Homo sapiens: one gene and its partner. The protein of the gene in region 1 purifies or fractionates together with the protein of each later gene. This does not show direct contact. Each region holds a gene or a part of one and is shown in the gene's direction. Other genes may lie near its edges. The genes, in order: ZNF419 and DDI2.

Region 1 (4,376 bases):
ATTTCCAGATTCTGAATTTTCTATACATTTTACACTGTATGGGTGACTAGATTCTATAATATGTTTTTTAGGTTTGTCCACAAAGGTTCCTGTCATGATGGTAAGCTAATTTCCATAATCTATTAGATGATTAATCCAGAATCTGCTCTTCTAATAGATGTTCTCAAGGAAGTGAAACATTTATTCCTGTGCTTGGTTTCAGAAGGAGGATATTATTTACATATTGTCCCACTCCTGTCATGGACTCATCTCTCCTCACTCTCCTCCTCCCCTCCCTTCCATATGCCACATAATGGTCTAACTGAAATAACTAATGCCATAGCTGCCATGGAAGGGGTAAAGAGCTTGTGTCTCTCTCTATTCTACCATGTTCTCAATCCCAATATTGACTCCCCTCCTCCTTTTCAGAGTCAAGTAGTACTGAACACCCAGTTCCAGAAAGCTCCAAGAAGGAGGGAGGGCTTCATTTTCTCTTGTCCTCATAAGTCACTCCAATGCTGTGTTGAAATTGATCATTATTCAGCCAACAGATGGAAGGGGCAGGAAAAGAAGTAGGGAAATTAGATTGACACGAGGGGACTAGATTCAATGGGAATGGATGTAGTGGGACTACACATAATAAAGGGTTGACATCTTTTTTTTATCAATAGTTGTGTGTTGTAAACAACAGTCTAGCATTCTACCCACCTGTGAGGAACTGGCTTTATATTTGGAAATGGAAGAGCAGTGGGAACATGGAGCATAAAGGGATGAAGGAGAGAAATGGAGGGGGAGTTGCCTCATGGGTTTGCCGCCTATTGTTGTGCCTGTACACCAATGTTGGGTCTTTGAGGAAGGAAGGAGCACAAATGAGCATGGGATAAAGGAGGAAAGTAAATCCTTGGGCTCCCATACTCTCTCATCACCTACATCCAGAATTCAGAGCCTTTTCTTATTGTCATACATCAGGCATTGCTTGGCCACCGTTAATTTTAATATTGGGTGTCCTTTTGTCAAAGGAAATTTGGGGATCTATACGTGGCTCTTCCCAGAGAAACCTCTTTACTGTGGCCCTGAAGATCCTCTTCAATTCCTTCAAAAGAAGGAAAGATTGGGGTATCAGCTGCAGGAAACTGAAATCCAGGCCCATCTCCAAAAACAGCAGTTTCTGGATGAGTCCGAGAGAAGTTCTCAACCCTAATTTCTCCTCCATCTCCTATTCCGTTATCTCCATCTCCATCATCATCTCCATCTCCGTCTCCATCTCCATCATCATCTATCATCTCCAATCTCCATCTCCGAAGTTATGCCCACTTCCTGGAAGTTTGGAGGCACGGGAACTACATTGCCCAAAAGGCGCAGCGCCGCGAGGCGGCGATCCCTGACCAATGAAAAGAGGTCTGCCCGAGCGTGCGACACGCAATGGGCGGGACTTCCGGCGTCTCGTTTGGTATTCACTTTCGCGACTCAGGTGAACTAACCTGCGAGAAGCTGGTTGTGCGCTGAGGCGACCAGCGCCGGAAGGCACGGTGGCGACTCACGCTGTTCTCGCCGCTCAGAGGCGGGTCTGAGGCTCGGTGGCGGCGCCCAGGGTGGCCCGGGCCCTTTCCTCGGTCATTGTCTCCCCTCCAGCTCTACTCACAGGCTCCGATGGCGGCGGCCGCCCTGAGGGACCCCGCTCAGGTGAGCGCCGCGTCCTCCTGGCCTCCCCCGAATCCTAAAGCCCTGTGAGGGCCGCCTGCTCAGGTCCCCGGGTGCAGAACTGTGGGGCGTTCGTGCGCGGCGTCCCGTTTCTGACACGCAGTGTGATGGGGTGGCAATGGAGGGCAAGGGGCCCGGCTCGCAAAGATGTGAGGCGCATTCAGCGAGTCCCGAACCTGAGGCCTCCTGGTGTCTGTAGTGGGCAGCTTGGGAAGGGACGAGGCGCGTGTCGAGCGACAGCCCGAGCAGCTGCGCTTTCATCCTGAGGGGGCCACAGTGGCCGCGGAGGGCTGGAGACAGAAGAGTGACAAGATCTGTTTCTCAAAGTTTGCCAAAGGCCCTTCAAGTCAAAACAGACTGGGGTGGGGGTGAGGCGGGTGAAGACAGACCTGTGAGTAGGTAAATTCAGTAGACTAGTGGAGAGTCTACTGGGACTGGGCCACAGAGGAGGGGAAGTGATCAGATCTTGGATGGATATCAAAAACTGAACAGACAGGAATTCCTGTTGCATCAGATGTGACTGAAAGAAAGGGAATGAAGAGCCATTCTGGATTTTTATTTGTATTTTTGTTTGTTTGTTCCTGAATATCAGGAAGGATGGAGATGGGTAAGGCTGTGCAGGGAGTAGGTTTTGGACATGGTAATCCTGAGATGACCCAGAGTGGAGGTGTCGTGTCCACATGGGCAGCTTGCCCACTCACATCTGGAAGTTTGGGGAGGGATCTGGGCTGGAGATATGGTAGATATGGGCTGGTTGGGTAGAGGCCTGGACTAGGGTAAGTCCTGGGGCTCCTATTTAGGAGGGAGAATCTTAAGGTTCCCTTTCAGATGGGCCCTAAGGTGAGAGAAGGGAGAGATGGCCCTGTAGGACGGGGCTGCCTCTATAGCATGGAGTTTTGTGGTCAGAAGTGGTTCTGTCTGGTGTCTGCCGGAATGGAGGGTTATAGAGTATGAAGACCCAGGACTGCATGGAGACTGCAGTGTTGAGTAGTATATAGGTTTGCCACTCCAGGCTCAGCAGTTCCTCATGTACAGTCCGTATGGACAAAAGGAAACGTCAGCCAGGCTGCTGGAGCAGCCCCTTTGGTGCCTAAGTTTCCCTAGCCGTCAGCACAGGAGGGATGATCAACTGCTCCAGTAGAAGGGCTCTCAGCAGGATGGTCTTCAGGGGAGTATATAGCAGGCAGCCAGGTTGCCAAAAGGAATGGTATGTGCTCAGGTTTCTCAGACCCAGGTCCCAGTTTATTAACTTGTGAATTTATGAGGTAAGTATTTAAGCACTAATTGATCATAGTTCATATACACACAGGGGCAAATAAAACAACACGGATTTATTAAGTTAAACTGATGTAAGCACTTCATAATTGGTTGTAAAGTTAGTATACTGGAAAGTATTTGATTAAAATAAAGCACCTTAAGTATCACATTCTTAATTTAAAAGTAAGTTTAAGAAACCCATATTTTCTTTTTCTTTCTTTCTTTCTTTTTTTTTTTTTTTTTTTTTTGAGACAGAGTTTCGCTTTTGTTGCCCAGGCTAAACTGCAATGGTGCAATCTCTGCTCACTGCAACCTCTGCCTCCCTGGTTCAAGCGATTCCCCTGCCTCAGCCTCCTGAGTAGCTGGGATTACAGGCATGCACCACCACGCTCAGCTAATTTTTATATTTTTAGTAGAGACGAGGTTTCACCATGTTAGCCAGGCTGGTCTCAAACTCCTGACCTTAGACGATCTGCCCACCTCGGCCTCCCAAAGCATTGGGATTACAGGTGTGAGCCACTGCGCCTAGCCAGAAACCCACATTTTGAAAACCTACCAGTTTATTTGCGCTGAAAATGTTGACAGAAGCATTAATTATGTGTACAGTAAGAGTTGATACTTAGTCCTAGACACATAAGAATGAGTTTGATACAAACAATCGTCCTATTGAGTAAATACCATTATTATTGCCATGTTGCAGATGGCAACACCAAGGCACAGGGAAGTTGAGCACTTTTCCAAGGGCACACAACAGGTAAGAGGCATCACTAAGAACCAAAGCCCAGATTGTAGATAGTCAGGCACACCTGACTCCAGGCTAGACGAGTGGGCTTGGATGATCCTTTGGCAACATCACTGTCTGGTTCTCATAGTCTTGATTTTCCATAGGTTCCTGTGGCTGCAGACTTGCTTACAGACCATGAGGAGGTAAGTGGAGGATGTCTCAGGTCCTCACACTCCTGCACTCCTACCTACATGGTCTTCAGAATTATGGTGTCTTGAGGCTCCTTGCTGGCTATTCTCCCTACCCTTCCATTTGAGTTCCCTGGAAGATGGTCACACACAGTCAGGGCCCTGAGTCCAGACTATATATTATTTTTATTATTTTCTTTTAAGACAGAGTTTTGCTCTTGTTGCCCAGGCTGGAGTGCAAAGGCGCGATCTCGGCTCACTGCAACTTCTGGCTCCTGGGTTCAAGCAATTCTCCTGTCTGAGCCTCCCGAGTAGCTGGGATTACAGGCATGCGCCACCACACCAGCTAATTTTGGATTTTTGGTAGAGAGGTTTCTCCACGTTGGTTAGGTTGGTCTCAAACTCCTGACCTCAGATGATCCGCCCGCCTTGGCCTCCTAAAGTGCTGGGATTACAGGCGTGAGCCACCGTGCCCAACCCAGACTATGTATTCTATGGAGAGGTTCTCATTTCTGGCAACCAATGAC
Region 2 (3,814 bases), on another chromosome or scaffold:
TTTCCTAAACACAGTAGGACTAAGAGTTTTGCAGGAATACCATAAACTGGTTCCTTCAGGGGCTGAGTTCTCAGATTTTTGATGACTTTAAATGAGAAGATAATAGGAGGAGACAAAATAAGTACCAAGCTCTGTGGCCATCCTTGTGGATTTTACAACCGTGGCTATGATCAGCATGAAAAAACCCTTATAGCAATAGGGGAAACCTAAATAAAAGGAAAGCTTTACCATGGATTAGAGATTCAGTATGTTGGGGGTGGCAGTTCTCCCACATTAATCCACAGAACCATTGAGATGCCATCAAAATCCTGGTAGATTTTTTGTGAGACTGGATGTGCTCATTTTAAATTTGGCGTGGGCCCTATATTGTGAGAATGGGCAAAATACTCTAGAAAAACATTGCCTTCTAGATATCAAAGGACTATCTAGAAGATATGAGTAGAAACAAACCCATGATTCTATGAACATTGATCAATGAGAGGAAGTCTTACAGAGCAATGGGGAAATGTTAGGAAATGTTGCTGGGACAAGAGGTATCCATGGGGAGAAATGAATTAGAAATCGGACCCTACCCACACCACACAAAAGCAAATTCAGAGTAAACACCTAGATGCAGGGGAGGGAGGATTGCTTGAGCCTAGGAGTTTGAGACCAGCCTGGGCAACGTAGCAGACCCTGTCTCAAAAAAAAAAAAAAAAAACAACCCTAAAACCTAGATGTGGAAAGGAAAATTAAAGATTTTAGCAGAAAATACACAATATCTTGTGTAAGGAAGGAGTTCTTTAAAAATAGGTCATCTGCTGGGTGTGGTGGCTCACTCTTGTAATCCCAGCACTTTGGGACGCCAAGGCAGGGATGACTGCCTGAGGCCAGAAGTTCAAGACCAGCCTGGTCAATATAGCGAGACTCAATCTCTACAAAAAGTTTTTGGCTGGGTGCAGTGGCTCACGCCTGTAATCCCAGCACGTTGGGAGGCCAAGGTGGGTGGATCACGTGAGGTCAGGAGTTCAAGACCAGCCTGGCTAACATGGTGAAACCCTGTCTCTACTAAAAATGTAAAAATTAGCTGGGCGTGGTGGTGCGTGTTTGTAATCCCATCTACTTGGAAGGTTTAGGCAGAGAATCAGAGAACACAGGAGGCAGAGGTTGCAGTGAGCCGAGATCACGCCACTGCACTCCAGCCTGGGCAACAGAGCAAGACTCTGTCTCAAAAAATAATAATGAAAAGAACTTTTCAGCTGGACACGGTGGCTCATACCTGTAATCCCAGCACTTTGGGAGGCCAAGGTGGGCAGATAACCTGAGGCCAAGAGTTTGAGACCAGCCTGACCGACATGGCAAAACCCCGTCTCTACTAAAAATACCAAAATTAGCCAGGCGTGGTGGCACATGCCTGTAATCCCAGCTACTTGGGAGGCTGAGGCAAGAGAATCACTTAAACCCGGGAGGCAGAGGTTGCCATCAGCCAGGATTATGCCATTGCACTCCAGCCTGGGCAACAAGAGCGAAACTCCGTCTCTGTTTTGAAGTACGTAACAATAACCTTTTCTCTTCATGTGCTTTTTAGCTCAGGTTCAGATTGAAGGAGATTTTTTGCCATGTTCCTTCTCTATACTTGAGGAACAGCCCATGGACATGCTTCTGGGACTGGACATGCTTAAACGGCACCAGGTAATTAAGAGCTTCACTTATTTTTTTTGCATCTGCTTTTTGTAATATGGTCATTATCACATTATTTTTATTGGTTACATATACTGGAAAACTAAGAAATAACGACTTTTCAAACCTGGAAATGTCCTTAAATTATGTTGCTATACAGAGGTTGAAATGATGTGTCGATATAGATAGAATCTGTTTTTGTGAAATCTCTCTGTGAATCTGTTAAATCTTGCCAAATGTTTTGAGATTGTAAAGGACAGTTTGGTTCCCTTGTATAATTTTCAGATTCTGGTTAGATCCTGATTAGTAGTTTTTTGATGACCTGACTAAAAAGTGTGAGTCAAGTAAGTCTTTAGCATTCTCTGATGCTGATCAAACAGTACTTGGGAAGAAGACCTTCAAGGTTAAGGAAGGTATATGTTGGGAGTGAAAGTGTTTATTTAGTACAGGGTGCATAATTAATATATTAATTTGTGTTGATATTTATCTTTCTACTCTAAAGCACAATAATTTGAGATATACTGCCGTCGTTGAAGAAGCAGTTAGTCCACTGGGTATTTAGATGAGATTAGGCATGCTCAGGGTGGTATGGCTGTAGACCTCACTGGGTACTTCACATTTTTCACAGTAGGGTTTTATATCCAGTCAACCTGCCAGGTACAGTGGTACATGCCTGTAATTCCAGCATTTTGGGAGGCCAAGGAGGGAGGATTGCTTGAGGCCAGAATGAGTTTGAAACCAGTCTGGGTAACTTAGTGAGACCCTGTCTCTACAAAAAGTACAAAAATTAGCTAGGCGTGGTGGTACATTAGCTACTCGTGAGGCTGAGGCAAGAGGATCCCTTGAGACCAGGCTGCAGTGAGTCAAGATTGTGCCACTACACTTCAGCCTGGGTAACAGAGCAAAACCACATCTCAAAAAACAAAATTGAGTTAAAAACAATTGAAAATATAGCTAATCAATATTTTTATGTCACTATTTTAAAATATTTCTGTAAAAGTAGATGCATCATATTGATAATAAGACACAGCATTCTATTTATTTATTTATTTATTTATTTTGAGATAGCGTCTCGCTCAGTTGCCCAGGCTGGAGTGCAGTGGTGCAATCTTGGCTAACTGCAAGCTTCGCCTCCTGGGTTCACGCCATTCTCCTGCCTCAGCCTCCCGAGTAGCTGGGACTACAGGCACCCATCACCACGCCCGGCTAATTTTTGTATTTGTAGTAGAGACGGGGTTTCACCTTGTTAGCCAGGATGGTCTCGATCTCCTGACCTCGTGATCCGCCCGCCTCAGCCTCCCAAAGTGCCGGGATTACAGGCGTGAGCCACCACGCCCGGCTCACAGCATTCTAAATAGAACGAATGAATGAATGAGTGTATGTATCAATAAAACCTTGTCACTGCCTTTCCTTATTTTTTTAGTCATGGTATAGACCAGCAGTCTCCAACTTTATAGATGTAAATCATATATGTGCACAACTGTCTATTAAGTAGTTATAAAATACACAAAAAAGGAAGTTAGCATTAGCATGGAGTAAAGAATACTGTGGAGATTGCCTTGCGTGGCACAATCTTGGCTCACTGCAACCTCTGCCTCGCAGGTTCAAGTGATTCTCCTGCCTCAGCCTCCCAAGTAGCTGCGATTATGGGCATGTGCCACCACGCCTGGTTAATTTTTGTATTTTTAGTAGAGGTGGGGTTTCACCGTGTTGGCCAGGCTGGTCTGGAACTCCTGACCTCAGGTGATCTGCCCTCCTCAGCCTCCCAAAGTGCTGGGATTACAGGCATGAGTCACCGTGCCTGGCCATTTGTGATTGGAGTTTTAAATTAAGGAGCATAATTTTTCTGCATGGTGTTTTATCTGCTATTATTCTTTGGTTTCTTTCTTCCAAGTGTTCCATCGACCTGAAGAAAAATGTACTCGTGATCGGCACCACAGGCTCCCAGACCACCTTTCTTCCTGAGGGAGAGCTACCAGAGTGTGCCCGGTTGGCATATGGGGCTGGAAGAGAGGATGTACGGCCAGAGGAGATTGCAGACCAAGAATTAGCAGAAGCCCTTCAAAAATCAGCAGAGGATGCAGGTATTTGGGATGGCCAAACTCTTCAATACTTGTTATTGATGGGTAAGCCCGGGAAGTGTGGGCTTCAGAAG

Evidence for each region.
Region 2: the proteins of ZNF419 (region 1) and DDI2 purify together in Homo sapiens (co-immunoprecipitation; one large-scale study listed by IntAct). This does not show direct contact.

What each region holds. Positions count from the first base shown.
Region 1 is NC_000019.10:57,486,322-57,490,697, forward strand, and holds the start of ZNF419 (zinc finger protein 419), read left to right. Parts: upstream 1-1,428; 5' UTR 1,429-1,629; coding exon 1,630-1,662; intron 1,663-3,809; exon of another isoform or gene 3,810-3,825; coding exon 3,826-3,864; intron 3,865-4,376. UniProt on the Homo sapiens protein: May be involved in transcriptional regulation.
Region 2 is NC_000001.11:15,648,153-15,651,966, forward strand, and holds part of DDI2 (protein DDI1 homolog 2), read left to right. Parts: intron 1-1,567; coding exon 1,568-1,671; intron 1,672-3,553; coding exon 3,554-3,743; intron 3,744-3,814. UniProt on the Homo sapiens protein: Aspartic protease that mediates the cleavage of NFE2L1/NRF1 at 'Leu-104', thereby promoting release of NFE2L1/NRF1 from the endoplasmic reticulum membrane.